Linked DNA regions of Homo sapiens: all the other regions are linked to region 2. Evidence: fine-mapped expression QTL. A gene starts in region 2. Each other region holds a variant in brackets. All regions are shown on one strand. Distances are from middle to middle. Region 1 overlaps ZSWIM5 (zinc finger SWIM-type containing 5). Region 2 holds the start of RNF220 (ring finger protein 220). Region 3 holds the start of SNORD145 (small nucleolar RNA, C/D box 145). Region 4 overlaps RNF220 (ring finger protein 220). Region 5 overlaps RNF220 (ring finger protein 220).

What was found.
Region 1: its variant is fine-mapped to the expression of RNF220 in skeletal muscle (FUSION, PIP 0.95).
Region 3: its variant is fine-mapped to the expression of RNF220 in monocytes (TOPMed, PIP 0.93).
Region 4: its variant is fine-mapped to the expression of RNF220 in whole blood (TOPMed, PIP above 0.99).
Region 5: its variant is fine-mapped to the expression of RNF220 in lymphoblastoid cells (GTEx, PIP 0.97).

The regions. Positions count from the first base shown.
Region 1 is chr1:45,173,465-45,179,538 of GRCh38, reverse strand. All of the region lies in intron 1 of ZSWIM5 (zinc finger SWIM-type containing 5), which reads left to right. Among named protein-coding and RNA genes, the nearest start is that of ZSWIM5, 30 kb to the left of the region's middle. The variant G/A (reference allele first, on the strand shown) is at 3,028.
Region 2 is chr1:44,402,197-44,408,270 of GRCh38, reverse strand. RNF220 (ring finger protein 220) reads right to left here and starts at 3,016. Exons shown (of 15, transcript NM_018150.4): 1 at 2,741-3,016. RefSeq lists an enhancer at 1,601-2,123.
Region 3 is chr1:44,666,027-44,672,100 of GRCh38, reverse strand. All of the region lies in intron 1 of TMEM53 (transmembrane protein 53), which reads left to right. SNORD145 (small nucleolar RNA, C/D box 145) reads left to right here and starts at 1,045; the gene lies at 1,045-1,144. The variant G/A (reference allele first, on the strand shown) is at 3,714.
Region 4 is chr1:44,632,645-44,638,718 of GRCh38, reverse strand. It overlaps RNF220 (ring finger protein 220), which reads right to left. Exons shown (of 15, transcript NM_018150.4): 7 at 3,131-3,174; 8 at 2,557-2,689. It overlaps LOC107984950 (a long non-coding RNA gene), which reads left to right. Exons shown (of 2, transcript XR_001738031.2): 2 at 2,262-3,481. Among named protein-coding and RNA genes, the nearest start is that of SNORD145, 35 kb to the left of the region's middle. RefSeq lists enhancers at 5,406-5,953, 6,023-6,074. The variant C/T (reference allele first, on the strand shown) is at 3,095.
Region 5 is chr1:44,500,703-44,506,776 of GRCh38, reverse strand. All of the region lies in intron 2 of RNF220 (ring finger protein 220), which reads right to left. Among named protein-coding and RNA genes, the nearest start is that of MIR5584, 42 kb to the left of the region's middle. RefSeq lists an enhancer at 1-278. The variant G/A (reference allele first, on the strand shown) is at 2,859.

The DNA.
Region 1 (6,074 bases), 770 kb before region 2:
AGTTTGGAGTACGTACGAATGAATCTGTTACCCAGGTAGTGAGCATAGTACCCAATAGGTATTTTTTTTCAACCCTAACCCTCTCCCTTCCCTATGTTGTATTCATCAGTGTCTGTTGTTCCCATTTTTACAACCACATATGCCCAGTGTTTAGCACCTTCTTGTAAGTGAGAACATTTAGTCTTTGAATTTCTGTTTCTGCATTAATTAACATAGCATAATGGTTTCCAGGTGCATCCATGTTTTTGTGAAGTACATGGCTGTGTAGTATTCCATGGTGTATATGTACCATGGGATGTACCTCATTTTCTTTATTCAACCCACTGTTGGTGGGCACCTGAGCTGATTCTATGTTTTTGCTAATTTGAATAGTGCTGTAATGAATATACAGGTACACGTATGTGTCTTTTTGGTAGAATGACTTATTTTCCTTGGTTGGATTTACTCCTAAGATATTTTTTTCTTTTTCATGCTATCATAAATGGAATTGTTTCCTTTATTTCATTTTTTAATTGTTTGTTGCTAGTGTATATAGATAGAAATATAACTGATTTTTGTATGTTGATCTTGTACCCCTAACCTTGTGGAATTCATTCATTTATTTATTTATTTTAATTTTAAATAGTATCTTATTGAATGTTTTATTCACAGAAAAATAAGCTTTAATCTACAATGAATGCCAGATTATACAGCAGAGAGCAGTTTTCTTAGTTTTCCACACTGATAGAAAGGTTCTTACTAAGTGAAAAAAGCCATAAAATTATATTCACCAATAGAGTACTCTGTCTCAAAACATTCCACATGATTGTTCACAATACTAATACAATTAAATCAGTCATTTACGTTAAAGTATAACAGTGATAAAAAATGCAAAATCTAATATAAATTACATTAAAACTTTTGTTATATCAAATCAGAAATGCAAATTTCTTACTAAATACAGAAAAATGGTCAAATATATAGTAATTTAAGATATTACATTAATGATACAGAATAGGAAAGTGGTAAACTCCAAAAATCTATAGGCATATCTGCAAACTTCAGACTTCAAAGTAGAATCTGACCACCCAAACATTAATGTAGCATTTGTCTAATTTTTGTTTTGTTTTGTTTCTGAGACGGAGTCTCACTCTATCACCCAGGGTGGAGTGTGGTGGCGCCATCCTGGCCCACTGCATCCTCCACCTCCCAGGTTCAAGCGACTCTCCAGCCTCAGTCGGTCGAGTAGGTGGTACCACAGGCATGCGCCACCACACCCAGCTATCCCTTCATTTCTGCAAAGACAGGGTTTCAGCCTGTTGGCCAGGCTGGTCTCCAACTGCTGACCTCAGGTGATCCGCTTGCCTCAGCCTCCGAAAGTGCTGGGATTACAGGTGTGAGCCACTGTGCCCGGCGCCATTTGTCTAATTTGAAGATACAGTTGTCCCTTGCTATCCGTGGGGTTTTGGTTTCACAACCCCCTAGGACCTGAGGATGCTTAAGTCCCTTAGATAAAATCACATAAGGCCGGGTGTAGTGGTTCACGCCTGTAATCCCAGCACTTTGTGAGGCCAAGGCAGGCAGATCACCTGAGATCAGGAGTTTGAGACCAGCCTGGCCAACACCCTTGTGGAATGAATTTATTACTCAAATAGAGATAAACTTTTATCTTCCTTTCCAATCTGGAATCCTTGGTCCTTATCAAGTCACAAAACTCAGTGTTGTTTGTGCCATAGAATGCATTGTATTAAGGGATTTTTCTGCTTGCATTAGACTGGGAAATGCTTTTTAATGTGCTATTGTGTTATTAAAGAATATGATCCCAGGGAAGCAAGAGTGAGAGAAAATGAAATGAGACAGGGAAGGAGGGTAAGGCAACATAAGGATGTGTCATAGAGCTGGTTACTGCTTGGTATCAAGTAGCAACTGATTGCTCAATCTCCCCGAATTGTCTTATAAAGCAGCAGAGAGAATCCCCTTTTATGCCCATCTTTCATTTCATGAGATTCAGACCTGGGAAATATTTTGCTATTAAAGGTATATTTTGCATACCCCTCTGTAACTTTCACCATTATTGATTTCACAGTTTGGGTTGTAGGAATTGTAGAAATTGCTCTATTGCTGTTACCACTCTGTATAACCTGCAAACTTAAGTACCTTAAATTCCCTGTGTATATGGTGTAGGTTTTTCAGTTCCAATGTGGAAAAGGGGGTTGGCCATAGTTCATAGCCTTGTTAGAGTCTATAACAACTCTTAATGATTGGAAGTGTAAAATAAATAAGAACAAGCATTCAGTACATTTAAGAAATTTTTTTCTTTTTCAGTGTCATATTCTTTTCTTCTTTCCTATTATTTTCTTTAGTGTTTATTCCTTATTTTCTGCATACGTTTTAGAAACATAATCACTGTATAGCAAAATAGCTAATTATGAGGTGTCATACAATGATACTGCTCTTCTCTTCCCTCCTCTCTCTAGTTCCTGAATCCTTAATCATTCCCTTTTCTTCTGACTTCCCTTCCTGAAAACTTTAGTCCAAACCTGGGAGAAGCAAGAGAAAAGGAAGTGAGATGGGAAGAAGGGATAGTAGCAGTGGCCTGAAAGGGTATATTGGAGCCCAACTGGAGCAGTGGCCTAGCATGGGGTGCTAGAGCCAAAGTGGGGTGAGGAGGGTATCCACATGAAGGGGGATATAATTTGAGATGTCAGAGTCTGAAAGGGTTGAGGATGACTTTTGTATAGGGGTGAAGGGGAGTGTAGAGCCATAGGGTGTTAGTGTTCAGATGGGGTGAAGTGGGCATAGCAGGGGGTGGCAGCAGTAGGTGCAGGTTTTTTGAGCTTGAGCACAGTGAGAAGAATGTCCTTATTGGCAGGGAGGAGCTGTGGTGGCAATGAAAGATTGGTTATTTATAGATATTGATCAACTAAGTAAATCAATTAAGGATAACAGGAGCCAAATTTCTCACTATCAGAAAAAGTAGCTAAAATGTAGACCAGGCCGGGCGCGGTGGCTCATGCCTGTAATCCCAACACTTTGGGAGGCCAAGGC[G/A]GGTGGATCACCTGAGGTCATGAGTTCAAGACCAGCCTGGCCAACATGACGAAACCCCGTCTCTACTAAAAAATAGAAAAATTAGCTCGGTGTGGTGGCATGCACCTGTAGTCTCAGCTACTCAGGAGACTGAGGCAGGAGAATCGCTTGAACCCAGGAGGTGGGGGTGGCAGTGAGCCAAGATTGTGCCATAGCACTCCAGCCTGGGCAACAAGCAAGACTCCGTCTGAAAAATAAAATAAGATAAGAAAAGATAAAGACCAGGGAGAAAAGGTGAATGAACTCTGGGTTTTGGATTGTAATTGGAGATACCCACGTGAACTCATGGTTTTTAGTATATATTGGAATATATATATAATATATATTATATATATATATGGCATTCAGTTAACTGAGAGGGCCTTAGAGCAGTAATATCCCAATAGCAATAAGCACACCTAATGCCCATATCTTGGTTTCCAAGTACTTTTCTCCGATAAAAGGAACAAAGCCTCCTTGGAGAAATGGCTGAATTTAGGGGTGAGGCAGAGAAAGTATCAAATGAGCCTTGAACATGTTCTTGTGCCAGAAAGCAGGGAGGTTCTTAAAGAATTATAGCAACACATCAAAAAGGATACAAAAGCCAGCTTTGAAGAGATTCCCATTAGCCAAATATGGGATGAATTGAGTGTCAAAATAATGATAATAATGGATATAACCAACCCATTGAATGAAATAGAAACCCATGAGTTCATTGTGTCAATGGTTTTTTTTTTTTAAAGGCCAGGTGCCATGGTTCATGCCTATAATCCCAGCACTTCGGGAGGCTGAGGAGGGAAGATCACATGAGCCCAGGAGTTTGAGACCAGCCTGGGCAACATGGCAAAACACCGTCTCTACAAAAATTTTAAAAAATTAGCCGGGCATGGTGGTGCATGCCTGTGGTCTCAGCTACTTTAGGAGGCTGAGGTGGGAGGATCGCTTGGGCCCAGAAGGTTAAGGCTGCAGTGAGCTGGGATTGCTCCACTGCACTGCAGCTTGGGCGACAGAATGAAACCCTGTCTCCAAAATAAAATATTTTTAGAAAGAGTAAGTTGAAAATTTGATGAGTATATTGGCATAATGTCAATATGGTTCCCATGAGATACTTTAATTATAAGGGGAAAAAGGTAACTTTAAAGTGAGGAATCCAGGCAAACACTACTGTGATCAAATGAGCAAAGTTAACCTCACCAGTGATGGGAGAAATCAAAATTGTGTGCCATTTGATAGGAAACAATAAGAACATGGCTCCACTTCTATGATATTACTGCCAAAGATAGATAACCTGAATCTAATCATGATGAAATAACAGGCACTACTGAGGGACATTCTTCAAAATAGCTAGCCTGAAGTCTTCGTAAGTATCAGAAGTCAGAAAGTTAAGACTACAGGTGGTTCCAGATTGAAGGAGAATAAGGAGACATAAAAACTAAATGCATTGTATGACTTTGGACTGGATCCTTATGGGGACATTTTTGGGGCAATTGGCAACAGTTGAATGGGGCCTGTGCATTATATGATAATGTTATGGTATTGATTTCTGATTTTCATGATTTTTATAGTTCTGTAGGAGAATATCTTTGAAGGAAATACACAAAAAAAGTATTCTGGGGTGATAAGGCAGTACGTTGACAACTTACTCTCCAATAACTCATTTAAAAATTATTTGAACTGTACTTGCAACTTTTCTGTAAGTTTGAGATTGTTTCAAAATAAAAAGGGATAAATATGATAATCTTTTTCTTTTTTTTGAGACAGAATCTTGCTCTGTGGCCCAGGCTGTAGTGCAGTGGCGCGATCTCAGCTCACTGCAAACTCCACCTTGCAGGTTCAAGCAATTCTCCTGTCCCAGCTCCCCGAGTAGGAGAGTATTTTGTATTGGGTGTGTCATGCCCAGCTAATTTTTTTTTTTTTTTTTTTAGTAGAGTTGGGGTTTCACCATGTTGGCCAGGCAGGTCTCAAACTCCTGGCCTAAAGTGATCCGCCCACCTCGGCTTCCCAAAGTCCTGGGATTACAGGTGTGAGCCACCTCACTGAGCTGATAATGAACTTGAATGAACTTTGATTAATAGTGAGTACTCCTCCAATTACCTATTTATTTTGAATTGTTTAAGAGAATATGTTTTTCTTAGCTTACATTAAAAATCTCCAATTATTTTTATTAAAAGATCACTTTTGAATGTTTTAGTTTTATTTCATATTTTGTTTTGTTTTTTTGAGACAAGGTCTCGCTTTCTCACCCAGGCTGGAATGCAGTGGCCTGATCTTGGCTCACTGCAACCTCTGTCTCCGGGTTCAAGCAATTCTCCTGCCTCAGCCTCCTGAGTAGCTGGGAATACAGGTGTATGACACCATACTTGGCTAATTTTTATATTTTTTGTAGAAATGGGGTTTTACCTTGTTGGCCAGGCTGGTCTCAAATTCCTGACCTCAAGTGATCCACCCACCTTGGCCTCCCAAAGTGCTGGCATTACAGTCGTGAGCCACTGCACCCAGCCTTCATGTTCATTTTAAAGGTTAAATTATAATCAGTACAAACATACGTAACTCATCTAATTTCATTTTAAATGATATTTGGTTCCTACTCAGATTATAAGCTAAAGTTTTTTAAGCAATTATGTCTTTATTGGTTATATAAATTTACAGTCTTTTAAAGCTGTGTAAATATTGCCACTTAATATAGTTTCACTTTTTATTTGCATAACAATAATAACAATATTAAAAGCTAACACAAAGTGCTGGGCGCTTTGCCAAATATTTAACATGTTATAATTTATGTAATCCATATAATATTCTTTTGAGGTATGTACTATTATTATCCCAATTTTACATATGAGGAAATGAGGCCCTGATAAGAAACTAGTCCAAATTTATATAGTTATGTGGGGCAGCTGGGGTTAGAGCCCGGCTCCTGTGTTCAAAATCTTAATCACTGTTCAGTTATGCACAGTGAAAAATGCATGGATAACTTAAGTCCTATAGAGATTGAAAAGAATGAAAAAAACTCAGTTAAATTTAGGAATTAT
Region 2 (6,074 bases):
CGGGCCAGTCCGAGAGTGCGGGGTCGCGGGATACTGGCTCAGCGAGCGGGTGCATTATTCAGCTCGGAAGAGTCTCGACTGGGAAAAAAAATCAACTCTTTTAGGGAAAACGGGGGAAGAAGAGGTGAAGGCGAAACCTACATAAACTTGGGCCCAACGCGGAGCCGAGCCCACTACTCTTTGGCCCGACCTCTCCCTCCGGCTCTCGGTTGCCTTTGTATATAGAATACTCTGGGTCCCAACAACCTCCGCACGAAACAATCTGCGCCCAACTTTGGGCAACCAAAGCGCCAGTCCAGGAAGAACCGACACGTGCAAGGGCCCCTGGTCCGCAGCCGCGCGGGGCCCGCGGGGCAGGGGCTCAGAGCTGCCAGCCTTCGACCAAAGTCCAAGGACCTCCAGCCCCCGAGCAGCCCCGCCCCGGGGGTCACCCGGGTCCCGCCGCCGCGCGCACCACCGCTTCAGCGGGCAGCCGCGGACTCCTCCACTCCCGCTTCTCCTGCAAATACGGACCGGCGCGGGGCTGCCGGGCCCTTCCAGCTCCTGGACTGCGGATGCGCAGTGCGGGAGGGAGGGTTCTGCGGCCCGCACCGCGGCCGTCCGGCCGCCGCACACCGCGCGGCTCGCAGAACAGGTGTGTGTCCCCGCTCGCTCCGCGCCCGGCCCCGGCCCTGTCGGCCACCAGCGGCGCGACGCGGCGCCGCCCCGTCCTCGGCCTTCCCCAGCCTTGCCTCGAAGCGCAGCAAGCGAACTCACGCCACTTTTGCCGGGTCTCTGCGGGCCAGGAGGGATCGGCACGGAAGACGCCAGCACCGCTCTTCCTCGACGCTCTTTCTGCCTTTCCCCCCTCTGCTCATTCCCCTTTGCAGGAAGAGCCCGCGAGACGGAAAGAGGAGGCCAGGCAAGGCAAAGCCCCCCTGCCCACTCTGCTCCCCCCAGTCCCCTCGCTGCTTCCTCACTGCCGCCCTTTTTTTTCTTTATTTTTCCTTTCTCTCCCCTTTGCCCCTCAAGCCGAGTCCGGAGCGGAGGCGAGAGGCAAGATGTGGCTGCTGGGCGTCGTGGGCAGCGAGTGCGGTGCTCTCCCCCTCGGCGGCTCCCGGGCCAGTGGGCCGGCGCAGACCCCAGACGACCCGGGCCGGCCAGGTAGGGCTGTGCCCCCACACCTATGGCCCGGGCCCCATGCACCCACCCAGTGCGACGCGCGCCTGGCTCAGGGCCGGAACACGGGCTCTCCGCTGGAGCTGCATCCACGACCCGAGAATGCAGGGTGTGCTTAACGGGAAGCGAGAGCTTTCCCCCTGCCTCCTGGCTGCCCTAGTCCCCGCTACTTCGGGACTCCTGCGCGCCCTCGCCAGCTGGGGTCGACCTGGGCCGCGAGCTCTCGGAGAGGCTCCTGGACTGGGGGATGAACCGGGCATCCCCTCGGATGGCCTCACCACCGTGGGCGGCCTCGCCCGGGGGGCCACACGGAAGCTCTCCGCCCAAGTTTGTTGTGCCCTGGAAGAAAAGGCTTTCTCTTACAAAGCACAAAGGCGAAACGCCCAGGCCGAGCCCTGAAAAGCCCCGGGTTGGGGGGCGGGGGTGGGGTGGGGGAGGCCGGAGGCTCCGGAGTGCGGTGGCGGGGCTGGGTTCCGGGCAGAGAAGGTCGCTCGGCCCGGGCTGACAAGCGCGGCGGCAGTGGCCGCAGGACCGCAGCGACCGGCGTGCTCACTGAAAAGTTTTGTTCTTAAGTCAGAAGAGAAATTGTTACTCAGTTTAAGGCAGGTCTAAGATAAAAATAAAACTACAAGTAGAGTAGTCAAGTAGCCCTCGTCTCCACGATCGTCCTCCCGCCTTGCTCAGTAGAACCGCTGGGAGAGGGGGTCCCGACCCCGAAAATCCCGGGAGATCCCACGTGTCGGGCTACTCTACGGCCAGGCCGGTCCAGCCCAGAGGAGTGGGGAGTTTACCGGTGGCGTTTAGAACGGTCCGCCTCTATGCTAGCACCTGCCTCCTTCCTGCCCGCAGAGGATCCATCCATCCTACCCCACCTCCCTCCCTCCACACCCTTCACACCCGCCCCCGCTAGGAAAAAGTCAGCCGAGCACCCGGGGTCCAGGGCTAAACAGCCACTCCCCGGGTATCCCGCGGAGCCGGCTGTGTGTGGGGTGGAGGCTGTCGGGGTAGTTTCTCATTCGGCTCGCCCCTTCTCCATCCGCCCGCCGCCTCGGGCTCCCCACTGAGTACCACCCAGCCCTGGCCTCGCCGGAAATCAACGCGGGGTACATAGGGGAGCCCGGAAATCACCGGGGGGTGCACCAGAGAGCCCGGCGAGAAGGCATTCTCGATATCGACCCGAACAAAGTGGGAATGGGGCTTATTAAGAGACGGAGAAAAGAAGTCCTGCTCCCTTCCCTTGCAGTGCCCTCACCCTCCCAACTTGTCCAATTCCCGCGTCTGGTCCCTCCCCCTTGCACCTCCCCCCCTCCCCAAATAAAACACATTAAGGAAAACTCAAGACGGAAAGTTTGAGCGAGGCAGCGCACGGAGCGCGCAGGGCGCCGATGCCGAGAGGCTCCGTCGCGATGATCCAAGACGCGCCAGTCCGAGTCCCAGTCCCTGCCCCCGTCCAGAGGGAACCGCCCGAATCCCTAGGAAACGGACCCGGAAAGTTAGCCAGGTTCCTGAACAAGCCGGCCGCCCTCGCACCCACCCCTCTTGGGTACGCACACACGTCCACACCCCTTTCTGATCTCCATACTTGCCGTGGAAATTCCTTGGGAGAACGGTCGCACTTTTCAGGACACGGAGGGAAGCAGGCGGAGAGTGTGGTGCATGAAAAGTCCCGGGTTCGCAGAGCCGGCGGAGGCAGCGGCGGCGGCGGCGGCGGCAGCGGCAGCAGCAGCAGCAGCAGTAGGCGGCTGGCCCCGGGTTTGTGTTCGCGAGCTGCCTGGGATTGCATGTACAGATCAAGAGACTCAGTTGGCGTGAGAGAAGGAGCAGTGCTGCCTCTCAGCGCTGGATCTAATCAGTGAATGAGCCTCCACTCTCCCAGGGACTCGGAGACACACACACGCGCGCACACACACACGCACGCACACATTCTCTCACACTCACACACATACAGGCACTCTGAGCACTGAATACATTAGGGCACTAAGGGACTCTGGGAAATGAAGTCCAGACCCAGGGCACTCCTGGAGAACAGACCTGCTGGCCCTCACCAAAGAGCTTGGAAGTCTTGGGGTCGCGAGCCATTGTGAACTAAAGAGAGCGTTGGCTTTTGTTTACATCCCTCCTCCCCCACCCGCAAAGGTCTCAGTGAATGGTTTCGTGCTTGTTGTTCTTCCTTTCCTGAACCAAAAGGGACCAAGAGTAAATGGGCAAAGCTTGAAGACTGACATCCACTGCTGCTTAAATGACCCCCAAATCCTGGGTCCCTCAAAATCTCTGTCTTTTCCCAGAAAAATCTTACCTGCTGCTTTGTTCCTGGAATGCTTCTCTGGGTCTTTGACTATAATAATAAATAATAAATGAATATTAATAAAACTGTAACTTTTGGAGGAGGTGAAGGCCTAGTATAGCATCCAGATGTGAGAATAAAATTTTTTATTGGTGTTTTATTGATGTTTATATTACAGTTCATTTCAGATCATTTCATATCATCCTATAATTCATCAAACACAAAGATAAACAGGGGAAATGGATAGAGAACTAACATTCCTGAGTGCTTTCTAGGAGCCCGGTTATGAGACTAAATGCCTTTACATAATTTCATTTACTCCTAAGATTAATTCTGGAGATAATAATATTACCACTAGTTTATAGAAGAGGAAACTGGGGTTGAAAGGGTTTTGTAATTTGCCCATGAAAACGTGGTTAACAAGTCTTGGATAGCAGGTAGTTCTAGTTCTGAAAGCAAAGTTCAACCAAAATCAAATCCTGGTTTAAGAAGTCATTCCTGGCCGGGCGCGGTGGCTCACGCCTGCAATGCCAACACTTTGGGAGGCCGAGGCGGGCGGAACAAGAGGTCAGGAGTTCAAGACCAGCCTGACAAACATGGTGAAACCCTGTCTCTACTAAAAATACAAAAAGTAGCCGGGCGTGGTGGCATGCGCCTGTAATCCCAGCTACTCAGGAGGCCAAGGCAGGAGAATCGCTTGAACCCGGGAGGCGGAAGTTGCAGTGAGCCGAGATCACACCATTGCACTCCAGCCTGGGTGACAAAAAAAAAAAAAAAAAAAAAAGTCATTCTTTTGTTTTGTAGTTAAGTGTCTAAAACCTCAGATTTCTCATCTGGAAAAAAAAAAGGGAGGGTGGGGAGAAATGGAGTACACACTGATAATCCACTTTACAGAGAACCACATAGGATTATAAATTGTCTAAAAAGAATGAGACTCAAAATCTCATTCTTGCTATTATTTCATTGTCCTTTTTACTTATGTTTAACATTAAGGTAGCATCTAAATATTAAGTATGTTTATGTATATGTGTGCTGTTGGTATTTTAAAATTTTAATTGGCAACTCTAAATAAATTGTTAATTTGATCACTTAGAGTTCTACATTTACAACTATTTCTATAATTCGTGATATCAGGATTATTTGTTGAGGAACTTTATTTTTATTTATTTATTTTTTTTGACATGGAATCTCACTCTCTCGCCCAGGCTGGAGTGCAGTGGTGTGATCTTGGCTTACTGCAACCTCCGCCCCGAGTTCAAGCGATTCTCCTACCTCAGCCTCCCAAGTAGCTGGGATTACAGGCATGCCCCTCCATGCCCAAATAATTTTTAGTAGAAATACGGTTTCACCATGTTGGCCAGGCTGGTCTCAAACTCCTGACCCCAAGTGATCCGCTTGTCTCGGTCTCCCAAAGTGCTGGGATTACAGGGGTGAGCCACCACGCCTGGCCTGTTGAGGAACTTCTAATCCATGTTTAATCATTCATTCATACACCAGCATTTATTATGTTAGGCTCTATTCTTTCCACTAAATTATTATTTCCTGCTGGATTGTAAACTTCATGAAGTCAAGAACCATGTTTGTTGCATTCTACATCATACCCTAAGCACCTTACAGCATCAGTCTCTTAGTTGAATGAATAAACGAGGATATAAAAATGAACTCCTGTCCTCAAAGAGCTCACCATCTAGTAGAGGAGACAAAGAAAGAGTTAGAAATCAATTTGATAACCACTGTAATAAGGATGACCTTAGAATTTATTGATCTAACTGAGACAAGTTTGATGATAAAAAAGGGACACTTTTAATAATTACACTGGGATGACAAATGTCAACAAGGGCCATCCTGGGCCAAGCAGATTGAATGGTCACCCTAGCTACATAAGGTATTTCATTCATTCATTTAACAAGCATTTATCGAGAACTCTCTTGCCTGGTGTGTTAAAGGAATTATAAGCCACTGATTTCCCTCAAAATTGAAATATGAAACATTGAGCAGCAAGAGATAGGCAGGAGAAGTGGGCCAAATCACAAAAGGCTTTGTATACTAAGCTAAGGAAAGTGGATGTTATCCTACAGATGATGAGAAACCCCTAGAGGGTTTTAGGGGTGTGACAGGGTAGGATTTCTGTTTTAAAACAAGCACTAGTTCCTGGGTGGACAAGGTGGAGGTTAGACAAGAGGCAGGGAGGCCAATCAAAAAGTCTATCTCAAGTAATTCAGTTGAGATGAAGTAGGGCCTGAACCAAGGTACTGGGGCAGAGTGAGTGGAGAGGAGGGGACACATTACAGTGAGATCTAAAAGGTAGAATCAACAGGATTTAGCCATTTTAGTATGGTGGATGAAGGCAGAAGGAAGACTCTATATAAATCCTAAATAAGATTTTATTATTTATAGCAAAAGATGTTGTCAGTACTTTAATGTTTATCAGTAGTAAAAGGCTCCCTCAGACTAACTTAGAGAGTTCCCGTAGATCCAGTGCACATTCTCACAGATAGATGATACAGATAAGAAGGCCTGTTCAATCATCAAGCCAAATATTTTTAGCTGTTACCACATGCAGTGGTCCTCACTACGATGCAAGTACTCAGAAACTAGAATTAATCACTGTCTATAACAGCAATCTAAACGA
Region 3 (6,074 bases), 260 kb before region 2:
ATTTGCTTCCTATCTGCAGAGCTTCCCTCCAGGCCAACATGGCCTGATAGAGTGACAGTCTTTTGGAGCCCCAGAGATTGTCTGTCTTTTGCAATTACTGTTTAATGGTGGAGAAGTGTATAGGACATTCATATTTAGTTTCTGAAATTACTTTTTAAAAACTTTTTTTTTTGAGGTGGAGTCTAACTCTGTCGCCCAGGCTGGAGTGCAGTGGCACGATCTCAGTTCACTGCAACCTCCGCCTCCTGGCTTCAAGCAATTCTCCTGTTTCAGCCTCCCAAGTAGCTGGGACTACAGGCACCCGCCACCATGCCTGGCTAATTTTTGTAGTTTTAGTAGAGACAAGGTTTCACCATATTGGTTAGGCTGGTCTTGAACTCCTGACCTCAGGTGATCCACCCGCCTCAGCCTCCCAAAGTGCTGGGATTACAGGCGTGAGCCACTGTGCCCAGCCTTTAAAAACACTTTTTTTTTTCAGTTTAAAAAATTTTCATTTTCTTATATGGAGACAGAGTCTTACTGTATTGCCCAGACTGGTTTGAAACTTCTGGGCTCAAGCAGTCCTCCTATCGCAGCCTCCCAAAGTGCTGCGATTACAGGTATGAGCCACTGCACCTGGCCTGAAATTACTTTTCCCCTGTATTTGAAAAATCGAAACCACAGAGCCCATCACTGCTGTGAGCTGACAGAGAAGCTGATGCTGGCACATTAGCTAGCTGGAAGGCAGCTGCAGATCTGGGGTCATTCAGAGCCCTGGGCCTTGTAGGTCAGGCTTGGCAGCCCAACATCCTTCTGCTGGGAATCCTACCAGCCAGTACCTATTGGCTGCCCACACCGATGGTCGTCTGCCCAGGCCTTTGCTAAAGCCGGTCGTTTGACCCAGAATCTGTCTTCCCTCCTCCCTCTCTTTTTCCCAGGCCAGTGATCCCCTCAGTCTCTCAATACCCTCTCTTACTTCATTTCATTTGGGAAGGGTCTCTCCTGGGGCTCCCATAAGCACTATATTTTCCTGTTGTCGTGTTTTTGATGGCTTCACTCACTGTCACCAGGGCCTGGGAGGGATGATGTACCAAGTGAGCTGAATGGAATCACTTGGCAGCACTGTAGGCCCAAGCCAGAGCTGCTCTGACATCCCAGGCCCAGGCCGTGCCACCCCTCCTCCCATCCAGAGAATGGTCAGCCAAGTCCCACCTAGATCCCCTCTGTGACTTGCTCATAGGCCAGCAACCTTCTTAAAGGCACCGTGTGGCTCTCATGTTCAGTAAACATAAAGAAAAATTCATTCATAGAATTAATGAGTCTGGGGCCTGGTCATGGGACAAACATTTTGCTCTTAAAGTAAACAGAAGGTCTTAAGGGGATCACAGAGAGGGGAAGTGAGGGGGTTTTTGCTCCCCAGGTTTTACCGCATGCCTTTTTTGCTCATCACTGGCTGAGGTCAAAGAAATATAGACATCATTTTAACCCTCAGGAAGTTGTCTCGGACACCCAGGAGACAGTGCTGAAGGGTCTGGACCACCATGGTGGGCCCTGTGGTGGGAGAGGCTTCCTAGAGTAGAGCAGCCCAAGCTGGACCTGAAGCTTCAGGAGGGCTGACAGACCCCCATGGTGAGCAGCAGAAAGTGTGGAAGTCAAGTCCATGGCCATACCACCTTGAACATGCAGATCTCAGAAGCTAAGCAGTGTCAGGCCTGCTTGGAACTTGGATGGGAGAAAGTGCAGAAGTAAATCCCTGAAGGGGGACAGTGAGTGGCTGGAGGGAACAGGGGCCTGGCAGGAGGCCGCGCTGTGCTTTTGTGGGTGGAGAATTAGATGAAAACCTGAAGATCTGTCATGATGGACAGACCTCAAAGACCCAGGTGAAGAGAGTCGTTTGGGATTTGATCCTTGTCTTGTCTACGAGGACCCCAAAGGTCTTTTTTTTTTTTTTTAATACAGAGGAGTTGTATTTATTTTTGGAATCATGATCTCTTTTCTTTCACCTCTAGATAAGAGCCCTTTCTGGCTGGGCGTGGTGGGTCACACCTGTAACCCCAGCACTTTGGGAGGCCGAGGTTGGCGGATCACCTGAGGTCAGGAGTTCGAGACTAGCCTGACCAATATGGAGAAACCCCATCTCTACTAAAAATACAAAATTAGCCGGGTGTGGTGGCGCATGCCTATAATCTCAGCTACTCAGGAGGCTGAGGCAGGAGAATCGCTTGAACCTGGGAGGCGGAGGTTGCAGTGAGCCGAGATTGTGCCATTGCACTCCAGCCTAGGTAACGAGAGCGAAACTCCGTCTCAAAAAAAAAAAAAAAAAATAGGATGCTTTCTAAGTGTCTGCTCTATGCCAGGTGCTGGTGCTGTACTAGACCCTGGATTTGAGATCCAGGCCTCTTTGCAGGCCTCCTTTTCTCTGAATGTCTGTGGTACTTAACACTGTTAACCATGTTCTATCCACATGCCAGGCCCACCAGGAGCTCCTTTCATTATTTTATTAATCCTCACAACCACCTTGTGAAGTAGGGAGAACCCTTAATCCTGTTTTACAGATGAAGAACAGATGCTCGTGGGGAGGTAAAGTGTCTTGCCCAAAGTAATTCCAGATTTCAGCTTAAGAGCCTTACTCCAGAGCTTGTGCATGCCGAGATTTCAGTTGCCATTAGGAGGGGCTGCCTGAATACGATGCCATTTCTAGGAAACAATTAGGGACATGCACAAAGAAAGGGGTGTCCATTAAAGTATTTTTATAACAGCAAAAAATTGGAAACAGCATCATATCCAATAATGGGAGATTTGGTCACCATAAATTATGAAACATTCTATAGCCTCTCTGAAGCCACTAAAAATAATGGTGTAGAAATATATAAACTGACAGGGAAAAATGTTCACAATATATTGCCAAACGGAAGAAAGCAGATTACAAACAATATGATTCCAATTTTATTAGATATTCATTTTCTACTTTTTCTACAGTGAGTATGCATTACTTGTGAAGTAATAATAATTTCAATTTATTGAACTCTTTCCTTCTGCCAGGCACCATGATAAGCCCTCTATAGCTATTATCATATTTAATTCTTTGTATCATTGTCCCCATTTCACAGATAAGGAAATTGAAGCTTAGAGAACTTGATTAAGGTCTGTGTCATAGTTATTAAGTGGCAGAGGCAGAGATTTGAACCGAGATATGATTTTGTACAGTATGTACTCTTAGATACTATGCTACTCTGCTCTGCTCTTCTTTTAAAAAGTAAATAAAAAATAAAGTAATTTGGCCGGGTACAGTGGCTCACGCCTGTAATCCCAACACTTTGGGAGGCCGAGGGGGGTGGATTGCTTGAGCCCAAGAATTTGAGACCAGCCTGGGCAACATGGCCAAACCCTACCTCTGCAAAATAATACAAAAATTAGCTGAGCATGGTGGTGCTTGCCTATAGTCCCAGCTACTTGGGAGGCTGAGGTAGGAGGATTACCTGAGCCCAAGAGTTCGAGGCTGCAGTGAGCCATGACTACACCACTGCCCTCCAGCCTGGGCAACACAGAAAGACCTTGTCTCAAAGAAGAAAAGAAAAATTTGATTTAAATATAGGAACTGTGAGACACTAGAAAGTTTTTCTGGGGAGTAGAGAAAATTAAGACTCTTTCAATTTTTTGCATGTTATTTTATTTTTATTTTTATTTTATTTTATTTTTAAGACAGAATATCGTTCTGTCGCCCAGGCTGGAGT[G/A]CAGTGGTGCGATCTCAGCTCTGGGTTCACGCCATTCTCTTGCCTCAGCCTCCGGAGTAGCTGGGACTATAGGCGCCCGCCACCACGCTCGGCTAATTTTTTGTATTTTTAGTAGAGACGGGGTTTCACCTGTTAGCCAGGATGGTCTTGACCTCCTGACCTCATGATCCGCCCACCTCGGCCTCCCAAAGTGCTGGGATTACAGGCGTGAGCCACCAAGTCTGGCCAATTTTTTGCATTTTAAAAAGAAAACATGGTTTCTATTTTCATTCTGGCTTGCAAATAAAAAAGTACATATTGTACTGCAGACCCTTATGCCTTATCAGCCCATTCCTTTGTCTTCCCCATATGCCCCTGGGGTATACACAATCTAATTTATGCTTGAGTTTTATGGCTTGAACTGTTGTACAATATACGTATTTGTAATTCTGGCACTATCTGTGTCAGTGTTATTTGTTGAGAAATTCTAGAGGACAGGGAGCTTGTGAGATTAAATTGCTTTGTGGGGTACTCGAGAAGTGCTAGGGTTGAAAAGAATCCTTCCACATTGCTGAGGGGCTTCTGGGCATCCCTGGCCTCTTTGACTTCTCAACTGCTTTTGACTCTGCTGGACCACCTCCCCTGTTGTTTGAGATAATATTTTAACTCTCATTGCAGAAGTTATACATACTGATTTTAGAAAGTGGGAAAAAAATCATGAAAAAGAAATTGCCTCTAATCCCATAAATAATTGCTATTAATATTTGATGTATTTTTTTCTATGCATTAAAAAAAATACATGGCTGGGCGCGGTGACTCATGCCTGTAATTCCAGCACTTTGGGAGGCCGAGGTGGGCAGATCACCTGAAGTCAGGAGTTCGAGACCAGCCTGGCCAACATGGTGAAACCCCGTTTCTACTGAAACCACAAAAATTAGCCGGGCATGATGGTGGGCGCCTGTAATCCCAGCAACTAGGGAGGCTGAGGCAGGAGAATCGCTTGAACCTGGAAGGCGAAGGTTGTAGTGAGCCGAGATTGCACCATTACACTCCAGCCTGGGCGACAGAGTGAGACTGTCAAAAAAAAAAAAAACAACAAAAAAAGTGTGCGTTTGTGTAGTATGTGTGTGTATATGGGTATTCTGTTATGATATTGCTTTATAACTTGTGTTTTCACTTAATGTATTACTATTATTTTTAAAAATAATAACATTATTGAGAAATAATTCACATACCATAAAATCCACCCTTTAAAAATGTACTTCTGGCCAGGCGCGGTGGCTCATGCCTGTAATCCCAGTACTTTGGGAGGCTAAGGTGGGAGGATTGCTTGAGCCCAGGAGTTCAAGACCAGCCTGGGCAACATAGTGAGACCCTGTCTCTACAAAAAATAAAAAATTAGCCAGGTGTGGTACCATGTGCCTGTAGTCTTAGCACTCAGGAGGCTGTGATGGGAGGATCGCTTGAGCCTGGGAGGTTGAGACTGTAGTAAGCCATGATCTCACTACTGCATTCCAGCCTGGGTGACAGAGTGAGGCCCTGTCTCAAAACAAAACAAAAAAAAAAAGTACAATTCACTGGCTTTTGGTATATTCACAGAATTGTAAGAATATCACTGCCATCTAATTCCAAAACATTTTCATCATCTGAAAAAGAAACCCCATTCCTGTTAGTAGTCACTCTCCATTCCCTCCTCCCCCCAGCCCTTGGCAACCACTAATCTTTCATTCTCTGTGGATTTGCCTATTCTTGATATTTTATATAAATGAAGTCATATAATATGTGCCCCTTTGTATCTGACTTATTTCACTTAGAATGATGTTTTCAAGGTTCATCCATGCTATCACGTGTATTAGTACTTCATTCCTTTTTATGACTGAATGGTATTTAATTGTATGGATGTATCACATTTTGCTTATCTGTTCACAGATGATAGGAGGTATGTTTCCACCTTTTGGTTATTATGACTGCAATGAACATTCATGGGCAAGTTTTCATGTGGATGTATATTTTTAGCTCTCCTGGATGTATCCCTAGTAGTGAAATTGTGGGATCATGTGGTAACTCTACATTTAATTTTTTTGAGGATCTGCCATACTGTTTTCCAAAGTGGCTGCACCATTATGCATTTCCACCAGCAGTGTATGAGGGTCCTGGTTTCATCCACAACCAACACTTGTTTATTATCTGACTTTTTAATTATAGCCATCCTGGGTATAAAGAGATACCTCATAGTGGCTTTGATTTTGATTTCCCTAATGGCTATGATGTTGAGCATGTTTTTATGTGCTTATTGGCCATTTGTAAATCTTCTTTGGAGAAAGACCTGCTTAATATATTCAGGTCCTTTGCCAATTTTTGAGTTGGGTTTACTTTTTGCTG
Region 4 (6,074 bases), 230 kb before region 2:
GGTCCCCATCTCTAAGGCCTGTTGCCCTCAGCCAAGTGTCTCCACCGAAACTCTTGCCCGTTCACTGCTTCCCACAGCAGATTACATTTGAGGTAACCGATCTGATCCATCAGACCAACCTCCAGGGGCCTGGTGGGAAGCTTTGCTGAGGATGAAGAAGAGGCCCTACTCTGGGAGGAGGGATGGGGGTGATCGGATACAGGAACTTATCTGCAATTCTTCACTTCTTTCATATCTAACAACGACAGCAATCTCTGTTCTGTCAGCACGCACAGCGCAGTTTAAATGGGCCTCGCCACTCGCCTGCTCATCCTGCCTCTGCCTCCTTCTCTCTGAAGTCTGCTGGGCAGCTTCTTCAGCTGGCGTTATCACTCCCTCTAACCGGTCTTGGCAGGCAATCTAATTCCTCCTGAAAAGGTCACCGCCATTTTAACTGCCTTTCAATCACATTAAGCACGCGCTGCCCGGCTTGCAGCCCGGCCCGCCCGGCGGGCGATCAATGCGCTGCACTGACACCAGCCCGCCTGGCGAGGCCACACCCAACCCCCCAAGAGTTAGGGCCTATCAGTCCTGGCCAGGGAGGGTAGGCTGACAGATGGCCAGCTTTTGCAGACAGGGTTTTGGGGGCAGAGGCAGTAGGGATCAGCCAGGGCCTCCCTTTGATAGCCCCCCCACTGAGGAGCCTCAGCCTCCTCCGCTCCACTGCGCCCCGCTCTCTGCCTCGTGGCCCCCGCTGATCTCGCTGTAAAACAGCCTTTCAAGTCTGCCTGTCTTTTGACTGCACTAAGCTGTTTAAGAGGCGGCAGCAGCTTCTATCAGGAAAGCTGGAGCAATTCTCTGCAGATAAAGGCACCTCCGGCCCCTGTTCCCTCTTCAAGTCTCACTCTCATTCTCGCTCTCCAAATCGCTCAAAGAAAAGCCCCCTTTGAACTCCCCTCAGGAATTCTTGAAAGGAACAACCTCACAGTGTAAACACTCAGGGAAAACGGATACCCGCCCGGGGCCTAAGAGCCCCTCACACTGCTGTGCAAGTGCATCCCGGCACAGGGGAAATACTCTTGTCAAATCAGCAGGCCCTTTGCAGCTTTATCCTCCATAAGCCCTGTCTGGTGCCCAGAAGCCATCAGGTCCAGGTCTGTGCCAAGGAACCTAAGAAGGTGCCACAGCAATGGAGGATGTGAGCAGTTGCAGCTGCCAACAGAGCTAACCAGAGCAGCACGTTGAAACTGACCCTGTGTGGCTGCCATCGGACACCCATGTGTCCAACTCATGGGACAGTCGTCAGCCCTGCTGCTCACTCTTCTAGGGCCTCAGATACTCGAAGGCTCCAGTACGGGATGAGTGAAATGGCAAACTAACACTCTCCAGCTCCGGCTCAGGGAGACTGTTTGGTCTGACTAACCTTCCTGATTTATGTTTTGGCTTGCCCCCAAACACCTGGGTAATGTGAGAGACGCCCAGAGGCATAATGTCTCATCTGGGCTCTTAGCCCCTTCGTGGAACCAGTCTGCACTGGACGGCCCTGCAGAGACCACTCCTCAGCATCTGCCCAGGTAGCACGGCCCCACGAAGGCAGAGAACTTCTTCCCAGCTGCTGTGAGATTCCCCAGGGACCATACACAGCAGTATTCCCAAAGGTGTTGCCCAGAGAGAGAGGCAGACGGGAAGCAGATTGGCTCACTTAATGACCACAAGCTGCAGTACCAGCTGTGCTTGTGCACAGAAAGAGAGAAGAGCTGGAGGCCAAGAGGCAGACAGCTCCCCTTTTCCCCTGCCCAAGGCTGGGGAGTTTAACAAGTCACTAACCCTGGGCACCCAACCAATTCTGCTGTCTGACCTGGTGGGGGGTGTCAAGCCTTGCTCTTCCAAGGAGCTGGGAGGGCACTGGAGATGGGCAGGGCCCTGCACACTCCTTTGTAGCAACTGGGGAGAGCCCAAGGGAAGGAGGGAGCAGCTGGGCCCAGGCCCCTCTTGCTTCAGGGCAGAGGGCGCCCAGGGAGAAGGGATGGGATCAGAGCTAAAATTAGATTCACCAATGAAGCTCATGGGAGGTCAAATTTTGCCATAACTCACTCTCCTCTGTAACTGATTTCCCTGACATAGGGCTGAAGAGGAGGAGGAGGAAAATCCAATGTGTTTGCCTGGAAGCCCTCAGGGCCCCCAGTGCTGGAGGTGTACAGCAGGTTGCTGGATTCTCATTTATCAGCCTTAAGAGGGATGGAGTGATAAATGCATAACCGTCCCTTTAATATTTTATGCAGGTGCTAACGCGGCTTGGCTGTCACCTTCAATGCATCACCCGAAGCTGAGAGCCCCCCTTCGTCACTCCTAGCTTGCAGCCTCACAATTCCATTTCCCCACCCAAATACATCCATTTTAATATGCACATCACAGGCAGGCAGCACGGTCACAAAGGAGCCCCACCAGCAGCAGTCCCCACGTGGTGGAACGGATGGATGACCAGCCACCAGCCTCGGCCTCTTGGCTTCCAGCAGATGGATACCCAGCAGAGGCCTGGCACCAGAGTGCCAATGTCTACGTGTCAGCTGCTTGTACCTCGGAAGCCACCTTCCAGGAGAGTGGTGGCCCGTATCCGCTTCTGTCCACACCACTCATACTCCTCAAAGCGGTTGTTGTTCTCATGCTCGATGTCCACAGCATCATCCTCAGCCATGCAGGAGCCTTCCCTCTGTGAAGAGCAGAGCAGGATCATGCTGGGCCCAGGCCATCCCCACCTGCTCCCCACAGTCTGCAACGAAGGCACAGCTCTAGCCCCAGCTGTGGTGTGCCAAGTGGGCCCTCAGCTCTAGGGCTCCTTTGAAGCAAACCAATTTAGAGGTCAAAGACCTGGGCCTCTTCCCAATAGTTTTCCGCTGGAGCCCAAGGAGGGAATGAGTGAGAGTGAAAGCAAAAGGAGAGAGCAGTGGTCAGAAGGGAAGAAGCTGCTGAGACCACATGGAGACCCCAAGAGCCCACAGATTCAGGGGCAGTCAGCAGCTAGTGTCGGGGGAAGGGAGCGGGGAAGGAAGGTGGGTGGTGATGGCCCCTCTACCTTAGAAAGGCAATGCTCCACATGCCTACTCATCTCCTGCTC[C/T]GATCCTGCCAGGGGGCGGTTGCACAGGGGACATACCTGCCCTTCATCTTGCTTCCTCCGTTTCATTTTCCCAATCCGAGCTGCACGGGGAAACCGAAAACAAAGCACAGAACAAGCAGACGGTCACTGCAGCCCCCAGGGTCCCAGTGGAGCTGACACATCCTGACCTCTTGCCAGCCATTGGCCTTTTTATTCAGTGCCTGATCTGGCCCTCATCTTGAAATACCTCCTGCTCCTTTGGGGACTGGGCTTTGCCAAGAGCACCTGGGGAGGAGACTGGTGCTAACTAAGCCAGTGAGTAAGTCCACTCTTTGGCTGCAGCTGGTGCAAGGTCTACCCATACCTTTCTATTTGCAGTGTTTAATAAAAATCCAGTGAGCAAAGACACTCCATGTTGCTAGGTATCTCTCCAGAAGGCCAAGACCATGAACTCTTTTGGTGTCAGGAAATACAACTCTAAAGAGCATCTCTTGACTAGAACCTAACCCCTCCGATGGCCTGACTTGGCCTGCTGTTCACTCATCAGCTAAATCCTCTTTGGTTCCTGGGCCAAGAGCCCTGAGGTACAGCTCCTAGCATCCCACCTAGAATCTTATCAGGAAGAATTTCTCTGAGGTCCACTAATCCCATTTCACAGAAGAGGAGACTGAGGCCCAGTCATAAAGGTAAGACGGTCTGGGTCAGACCTTTGGCAGCCAGGTCAGAAGGCTCAGGGAACCCTGAGAAGGCAGCCCTTATTGTGCCCACCCGAACCTGTTCCATCATTTCTAATCAGTACAGAGGGGCTGGCAGGCCCTGGAGGCAGAGGGCTGCCTGCCATGTTGTCCCACAGGGGGCTCAGTTCCAAAGTGCACACTGCAAGCCCACAACACTGCTAATTAATGCTGAGCAATGCAATCATTTCTAATTAGCTCACTAATCCCTCTCTGTAGCCCTCCTGTCACTGAAGCAGGAAGGGGTCAAAACAAGAAACTCTCTTCCCTCTAGTCCCTTCCAGAATGCCACAGCAGGATCAGAGATGGCTACTCTGGGACCAGACTGATGGGGAGTGGGGAGAGCCAGCAAAGGAGGGAAAGGTTCCCCAAAGCAGGGCCAGGAAGAACTTTCTCATGGACAGTGACCCTAACGGGAAGCTCATGAATGCAATCTAGGAGGGGAACACAGGTGAGAGCTGCTATGTTACAATTTAAGCTTCTACCGTGTGTCAGGCTCACAGCCAAGTACCTTACCCAAGGTAGCTCATTTACTACCACTTGCTGAAGCTAGATTGCATTATCCCATTTTAACAGATGAAGAAACCCAAAGCTTAGAGAGATCAAGGTACGTGTCCAAGTAGCTAAAAAGTGGCAAAGGCAAGATAGGAAACCAGAACTGACTTCACAACCTAGAATGCCCTCCTGTTTCAAGGGGACCTCCTAACTGAGCAGCATCAACAAAGACTGGTCCCAGTGAGTGTGCTAGGGCTCCAGCTCCTGCCTGTTGTGAGCCTGAGGCAGGGAGCTACTCCAACTCCAAAACAGAGCAACCCCAGAAAGACCCAAACCAAAAGGAAAGCTACCATCCTGCCAGAACTGGGCATGGAGTTTGAGGAAACTTGGTCTGTAGCCCAGTCCATCTCTTCACTTTCCTGTGTCTTCACTATAGGTGACATGACTGTGTCCTAGTGCCTCACTTGACTTTGTGGACACAGATCGAGAACTCTTCATTTTGGCTGCCCTAACTCTTGGAATCTCAGACTTAGGTAGCCTTGACACTCTAGAGCCAGGGCTGGGATGGAGAATGGACGTGAAACATCAGAAAGGCATTGAGCAAAGGACCCTGAGAGTTCTAGAAGTGTAGTAAGGAGCAGTGTGCCAACACAAAGCTTCCTCCCTACCATGCCTACACCAAGGGAATGCCTCCCTGGGGAAGAAGGTGCTGATGATACCACAATGTTCAATGACTAAGGAAACGAATCTCATGGAATGGTCAAGAAAGGCACAATACTGGATGCGCTCCTTGCTCAGGACACACAGGCCAGCAGATGATCCCTTGTTGTCCCTGGAAAGCACCCCAATGGACTGGGCTTCATCTGCAAATTCTCAGAGAAGGAAGGCAGGTTTGGTTTTCACCTTCCCATTCATCTTCTAAATCCTGAATTAAGCTTACCAAAGTGTGGTAGGGAAAGTTCTGTTCTCTATCCAGAGGCTACGTACGAGTAGGAAGAATCAAAGCATTTGCCAAGGAGGTAGCATGGCATGGTTGGAGAAACACGGGCTTTGGTGGGAAACAAACTTCAATTGAATCATGGCTCAGTTACATCCCAGCTGTGTACTTTTAAACAAACCACTTTCACCTCTCAGAGCCTGTTTTCTTATTCACAAAAGGTGTGTAATACTCTTCTCAGAGGCGTTGTGAGAATGGTGCTTAACATGGCGCCAGCCCATCATGAATTTCTCCCTTTTCCAGACTAGGGCTCAGCCTGGCAGCAGAAACCAAGTGATAAGAGCTGGGGATCTTGAACTCCATGGCCTCTCTCACTTACCAGCTGACCCAGAGACCCTAAACCCCTTACAGCCACCCCCCAGATACCACACCCCAGTAAGCACAAAAAGCTAGGATCATTCAATTGTATTCAGCAAACAGGAATGCTCCAGAGGTTTGAATCCAAAAGGGGGGCTGCTAGGTAGTGCATACACGGCCTGCTTTCAGAGAAGGCCTCTAAGAGCTGTCGAGCCCACGCTGATCACCTTTGTGAAATGTGGGCCGACTGATAACTCAAAGAGCCCTGGGATGAGTTAGTTCCTGTTGCCGTGGGAACTCCAGATCTCACTGTATTGTCAAGTCTCAGCAGAGGGGCTGTATTCACACTACTGGGCACTGATTAAAAACTGGAAGAAAAACATTCTCAGCGCCCTGCAGGTTTGTATAGTGAGGTCCCAGCAGTTTGCAAATTCAAAGCTGAGCTCCCGAGTAGAATTGTGTAGCTCGTTCCTCATTC
Region 5 (6,074 bases), 99 kb before region 2:
TTACCACACCGGGCAAGTCAGTGGGGAAGCTCAGACAAGACCACAGGACTTCTGGCTCCTACTCCAGTGTTCGTGCTTTGGCCAAGCTCTCTGAACATCGAAGAAGCCCAGCCAGTCAGAGCGCCCGTTTTGGGAGATGCTGGACCTGCTTTCTGCTACAGGGAAGAGGTTTCACTTGGCTTGGGCCATCCGGCCTGCAGGGTATTGCTGGAGGCTGATAGATGACCCCCAGGGGCAAACAGATGAAGGCCAGGAGGATCCACTTCTGGCAAACCAAAAGGCTGCCCCGAGTGGAGAGGCCCTCACCCCACCCCTGCCCTCACTCCACTCCTGTGCAGACAAGGGAAATATGTGTATGGCACATGGCGGCCAGTGCCAGTGGCCTTCCTGCCTTGGTGTGATGGACCGAAGAGAAGAGGAAGAGTCCCACTGGCCACTGAAGACCATCGCTCTCTCCCACTATCAGGAAGGAGCTGGCAGACTCTGCCCCCTTCACCCCTCCACACCCGCCACCAGCAACCCTGCCACCCTCCCAAGTCCTTCTGCATACCCAGCCCTCTCTGACCACTGTGATGCTGGGCACTGGCCAGGATTCCACATCCTTTTAAGAAATGTAAGGGACAATAACTTCTGGGCTAGAGTGCCTGGGCATTGCTTGGGCACCGGGTCCATGAAAAGAAGGCATCTTTTATGTGTTTATCTTTTTGTTTTGTCTTGTTTGCTGCCCAGAGAAGAGGTAAGGAATAGGAGTGCTCTATTAACCTTATTTTCAACAAAAGGAAATAAGGGGGTATGATGGGCTACCTTCTAGAGGTGTCAAGGATGGGGGAGAATGATTCTCCCAACCAGAGTAGGGCGGAGACTGGGGCAGGGCATGGGGGGAGGGGAGCGGAGAGGATTGGAGGGAGGTCAAGGGAGAAACGAAGAAAGAGGAAAAAAGAAAAACCCAGCAGTGCGCCATGTCGCATTGTTCATGCTCAGCCCTTCAATTTGCTCTCTGCATTCTCCTGCCGTGGGGAGAATGTTACGCTGGCTTAAGGGACAAATCAGACACAAAATAAAGACCAACACTCAGCAGTGAAGCAATTATCGCAACATTTTATGCCAGGACTGTTCCTTTTGAAGGCAGCCTGGTGCTACCCGCATGTACCTTAACCCGTTCCTAATAACCATAAAGTTACCATTATTTACGGTACAAGACATTAAATAAATAATGCAAACTCAGGCAAGCGAGCAGTCCATGCAGAGCTAGGCAAGAGGGCTTCCCTGCTGCGGGCCAGCCGCAGGGGTTAACGCGTGATGGAACGGATGCTGACTGCAACCTGTCCAGAGGCCTGGTGGCTTCACTCTGCCTTCTCCCTCAGGAGCCCACGTAGAGCCAAGGAGGCGGAGAGGCCAGCTGGCCAGGAGAAATCAGGGAAGGCCTGACCAGAGTCTAACCAAGAGGGAATCCAGCCAGGACCTACAAAGCTCGTGGACTTGGCCAGAGTCCTGTTTCCTTGGGGTTGCCTGGGAGGGAGCCAGGACCTAGAGGATCTCTCCTGATACAGTGTGGTAAAGAGCAGCAAACACGTGCTCTGAAGTCAGGCAGATCTGGGTTCAAATCCTGACTGCCACTTAGAAGCTGTGTGATGCTGCACGAGGGACAAACTCTCCCAACTCCAGCTTCCTTACTTATAAAATGGGGGAAGTAACATATAGTGTATGGGGTTGCTGTAACGATAAATGAGGAGCATCATGGAAAGCGAGGGGCACAGTGCTTGGCTATTTCATGTCTAGTTCATGATAGTTTTTCTTCCCCTCTGAAAGGAATTCTTAGCCTTTACTTTTACAGGTCAGAACCAGTGATGTGGTTGCATCAATCTGAAATGGCCCTGAGGATACCACATGTTTCTAGCTCAAGGTGAAAGGGAACATTGGGAGAGGGAAGAGAGGCCAGAGACAAATTTGAAAAAAAGGATAGGTGCCAGCTTCTTAAGACAGATATGGTCACGTGCTTTTGGCAAGGGAATTTTCCAAAAAGAGATTCTCGGTCTGTGCCAAAAAAGATACTGATGCCAATGAGACACAGGTGCTGGGATCTTGTCACTGAGGTATCAGAAGCTGCTTACAAAATCAGATATGGAAGAGGGGACTTTGCTCTCTCCCTCACTGCTCTTTCCAATTCTAACCATCCTTTCATTATACCCGCCCACCCAGAAGCTCCAGAGAGCCAAATCGTGTCATGTGCTGTCACAAACCCGGATCCCTAAGAGGACTCTCAAAGGGACCTGCCATACTGGATCAGCCCCTCGAACTTCTGCCAGGTCCCATGCTCTGAATATGAGCACAGGGGGCCAGTCAAGGCTCAGAAGGGTCAGGGCCCAGACATCCCAGATAACGGGGTCCTTAAAAGTGTCCGTGTCCCAGCCATTCATATCCACATCCTTGGGCAGATTAGCCCAAGAACTAACCAAAAGACTTAGGTGCTGGGCTGGATTGGCCCCCATTAGCCCCCTGGCTTCTACCAGAGCAAGTTATTTTTGAAGTGCATCAGGAAGATCTAACCAAGGGTGGCAACATTGATCAGCATACCTAGAACTTTACGGAGCATCAGAATGATCTGAGAGCCTGTTAAAACACGGATGGCGGCCGGGCACGGTGGCTCATGCCTGTAATCCCAGTACTTTGGGAGGCTGAGGCAGGTGGATCACAAGGTCAGGAGATCGAGACCATCCTGGCTAACACAGTGAAACCCATCTCTACTAAAAATAAAAACAATTAGCTGGGCATGGTGGCACGCACCTGTAGTCCCAGCTACTCAGGAGGCTGAATCAGGAGAATCGCTTGAACCCAAGACGTGGAGGTTGTAGTGAGCC[G/A]AGACTGTGCCACTGCACCCCAGCCTGGCCAACAGCAGACTCTGTCTAAAAAAAAAACAAAAAACAACCCACGGATGGCTGGGCCCCACACCCAGAGCTTTCAGTTCAGTAGGCCTAGGGTGGCGCCTGAGGATTTGCATTTCTAAATTCCCAGGTGATGCTGATGCTGTTGGTCCAAGCTTTGAAAACACTAGCCTAAAATTCTTCCTTGGGTTAACTTTCTCAATGCCTTCTCTTCACCTCAGATCTGGCCTTGAAAGGGGAACAGAATGGCCTGGGATAGCTGTTTCTCTCCTGTGGGAGGTGATGTGGCAGAGGGCGGAACAGGGGGTGTCTGAGATTATATGTGGCTGCAAATCAGATGGACAAGTAAACCAGCAAAATACTTTTAATGTGGTATTGGATGAGGGCAGTGTGGGCATGGAGGTCTTCCCAGCACACTAATGTATGCACACATGGACATTCTCCTCTTTCTTCCCTTGGCCTGCATTTGGAGTCCAATCCTCTTTTTGCTTGGTGGGACACGTTTTCACCTCCAAAATGCTTTCCTTGGTAAACGCTTCTTTTTTTTTTTTTTTTTTTTTTGAGACAGCATCTGGCTCTGTCACCCAGGCTGGAGTGCAGTAGCGCAATCTCGGTTCACTGCAACCTCTGCCTTCCAGGTTCAAGTGATTCTCCTGCCTCAGCCTCCCAAATAGCTGGGATTACAGGCATGTGCCACCATACCCAGCTAATTTTTGTATTTTCAGCAGAGACGGGGTTTCACCATGTTGGCCAGACTGGTCTCGAACTTCTGACCTCAAATGATCTGCCCATCTAGGCCTCCAAAAGTGCTGGGATTATAGGTGTGAGCCACTGCGCCTGGCCCTTGGTAAACACTTCAAATGCACCCAACATTAAAGTAAAAAATATCAATGAAATCTTAAAAAATGCAGCCTGGGCAACACAGCAAGACCCCATCTCTCCAAAAATAAAAATAGAAAAAATTAGTCAGGCATGACAACGTGCTTCTATAGTCCCAGCTACTGGAGAGGCTGAAGCAGGAGGATCGCTTGAGCACAGGAAGTCAAGGCTGCAGTGAGTTACGATCTCATCACTGCACACCAGCCTGGGCGACTGAGTTAGCACTCTGTCTCTAAAATAATAATTTAATAATAATAATAATAATAATTCACACGTTTTTCTGTAGTATTCGCTTGTCAAATGAAGTTAAATGTGATGTATGTTACAATGTATTGTGTGGCATGTGTGATATTATCTCATTGGATTAGAATTATTTATTCTCCATTTGCTTTTCTGTTTAAGAATAAGCTCCTTCAGGGCAGGGACAGCTCTTATTTCCTCTGTGTCTCCTAGGGCCTGGCACAATGTCTAACACAAGGAATGCTGAGCAAATTATTTAGTGCATGAATATTTGCTCCAGGAAGATGAGGCCTAATACCATGCAGATGGTTATTACATGTCAAAATAAGAATAATCCCATTTTTATATTCTCTTTCCCTCTTCCTCTGATCTTTCTCCTCTCAAATATTTTCAGGCTGGAATTCAGGGATTGGTTCTGGAGTTATCTTTATGGTTGTAGAACCCCTAGAGCTGAGAACACACAGTGGTGCCATTTAGAGAACTGACTGCCCCAGTAGACTCCCAGAATACACTGGGACTCCCAGAACACTGGATCATGCGGCAGCCTTAGCCAGGAGCCTCATAAAGTGTATGTGTGTGTGTGAGCGTGTATGGTGTGTGTGTGTGTGTGTGTGTGTGAGAGAGAGAGAGAGAGAGAGAGACAAAGGATCATACTGCAGCCAGGAGCCTTACAAAGTGTGTGTGTGTGTGTGTGTGTGTGTGTGTGTGTGTGTGTGTGTGTGTTTCAGTGGTGTGAAGTCAGCTGGGGAATGCCAGGTGCCCACTCCCCAACTTGGAATTGCAGATCTCTAGCCTGCTGCGTGGCTGTAGCTCCCTTCCTCCTCCTTCTTTTTCTCCCAACATTGAGAAAGCAGTATGCTGCCTATTTCAAAGAGTATAATAGCTCCACATTTTTATGCTTCTTTTTGGAGCAATTAGAGTGCAGAGGAGGGTCAGCAGAGGGTAAGAGCGGAGAAAACAGCTGATTCCTGAGCACTAAGAGGTCCCAAGCCACCCAGCCCCCCTCTCCTGCACCAACCAAGCCTGCACTTGTCACAAAGTCAGCCCTGACAAGTGCTCTGCCGCCGCCGCTGTGCTTGGGTGGAGTAGAAACGGAGGGGAGAGAGGGAGGGAACTTCATTCTTTCCTGGCTTAAAAAGTCAAAGGCTCTGTAAGGCATGCAAAAGGAAGAAAGAAATTGTCCTGCTTGGCCGCATTGCTTTCCTTTCTTGACCAGTTCTGCCCACACCCAATAACCCCATGCTTCTCTGCCCAGCCTTCCTCCACCTGGGCCCGGGAAGGGAAATGGGACGCCTGCTCCTCCTCTGCTCACCCATCCCCAGCCTTTCTGCCAGCCTGGGTGTCCCACAGCTGACCGGCCTGCAAACAGGACTCTATCTGCAGAATCCACCCCCTCCCCCTCAACTCTAGCATTAACCTTTCTCTTTCTTTCAACAAAAGCCAAACTCTTTCAAAGCCAACCTGATTGAAATTCAAAAACTTTCCAGGGCCTCTGCACCACTCTCTACTCCTCCCCATACTGACAGCCGCTGGTCACCCCCCCACACCCTTCCCACTCCCCACCCCCAGCAATGTAGAAAATAGCGGGACAAAGGGCTCTCCCCACCCCCTCCCCCAAGCACAAGACTCTCCCTTTGTGTCACTGTGTCACTCGGGCTGGTGGAAAGGGAGAGCTGGCTCTGGGCTCTCCTATTGTCTCCCGATACCCCCACCCCCACCCCCACCCCCACAGCCTTCTGCAGCCTGGAGGCCTTGTGCTGGGTCCCGCTCAGTTGGCCAAATCGAGGGGCCTCTATGGGGCCCCCAGGCCCACTCTCTGACAGGACAGAAGAGCCAAGGGCCCGTCTATGCCCGAAGGGTGCTTCGCCCCTGGCTCCCGAGCCCCACGTTGTGGACTCCAGGGTGGACCTGGAGCCGCAGACCAAAGCTGGCTCCCTTATTTTCCTGGACACCAGATGGAGCTCCTCCCTCCCTCCTCTCTCTTTAGAGACTCCCTCCCTCAGCAGCAGCGGCAATTAGAATGGTCTGGCAGGCTCTGGGGAGGGGGATGCCCAGGTGGTGGCCAGGAGGCTA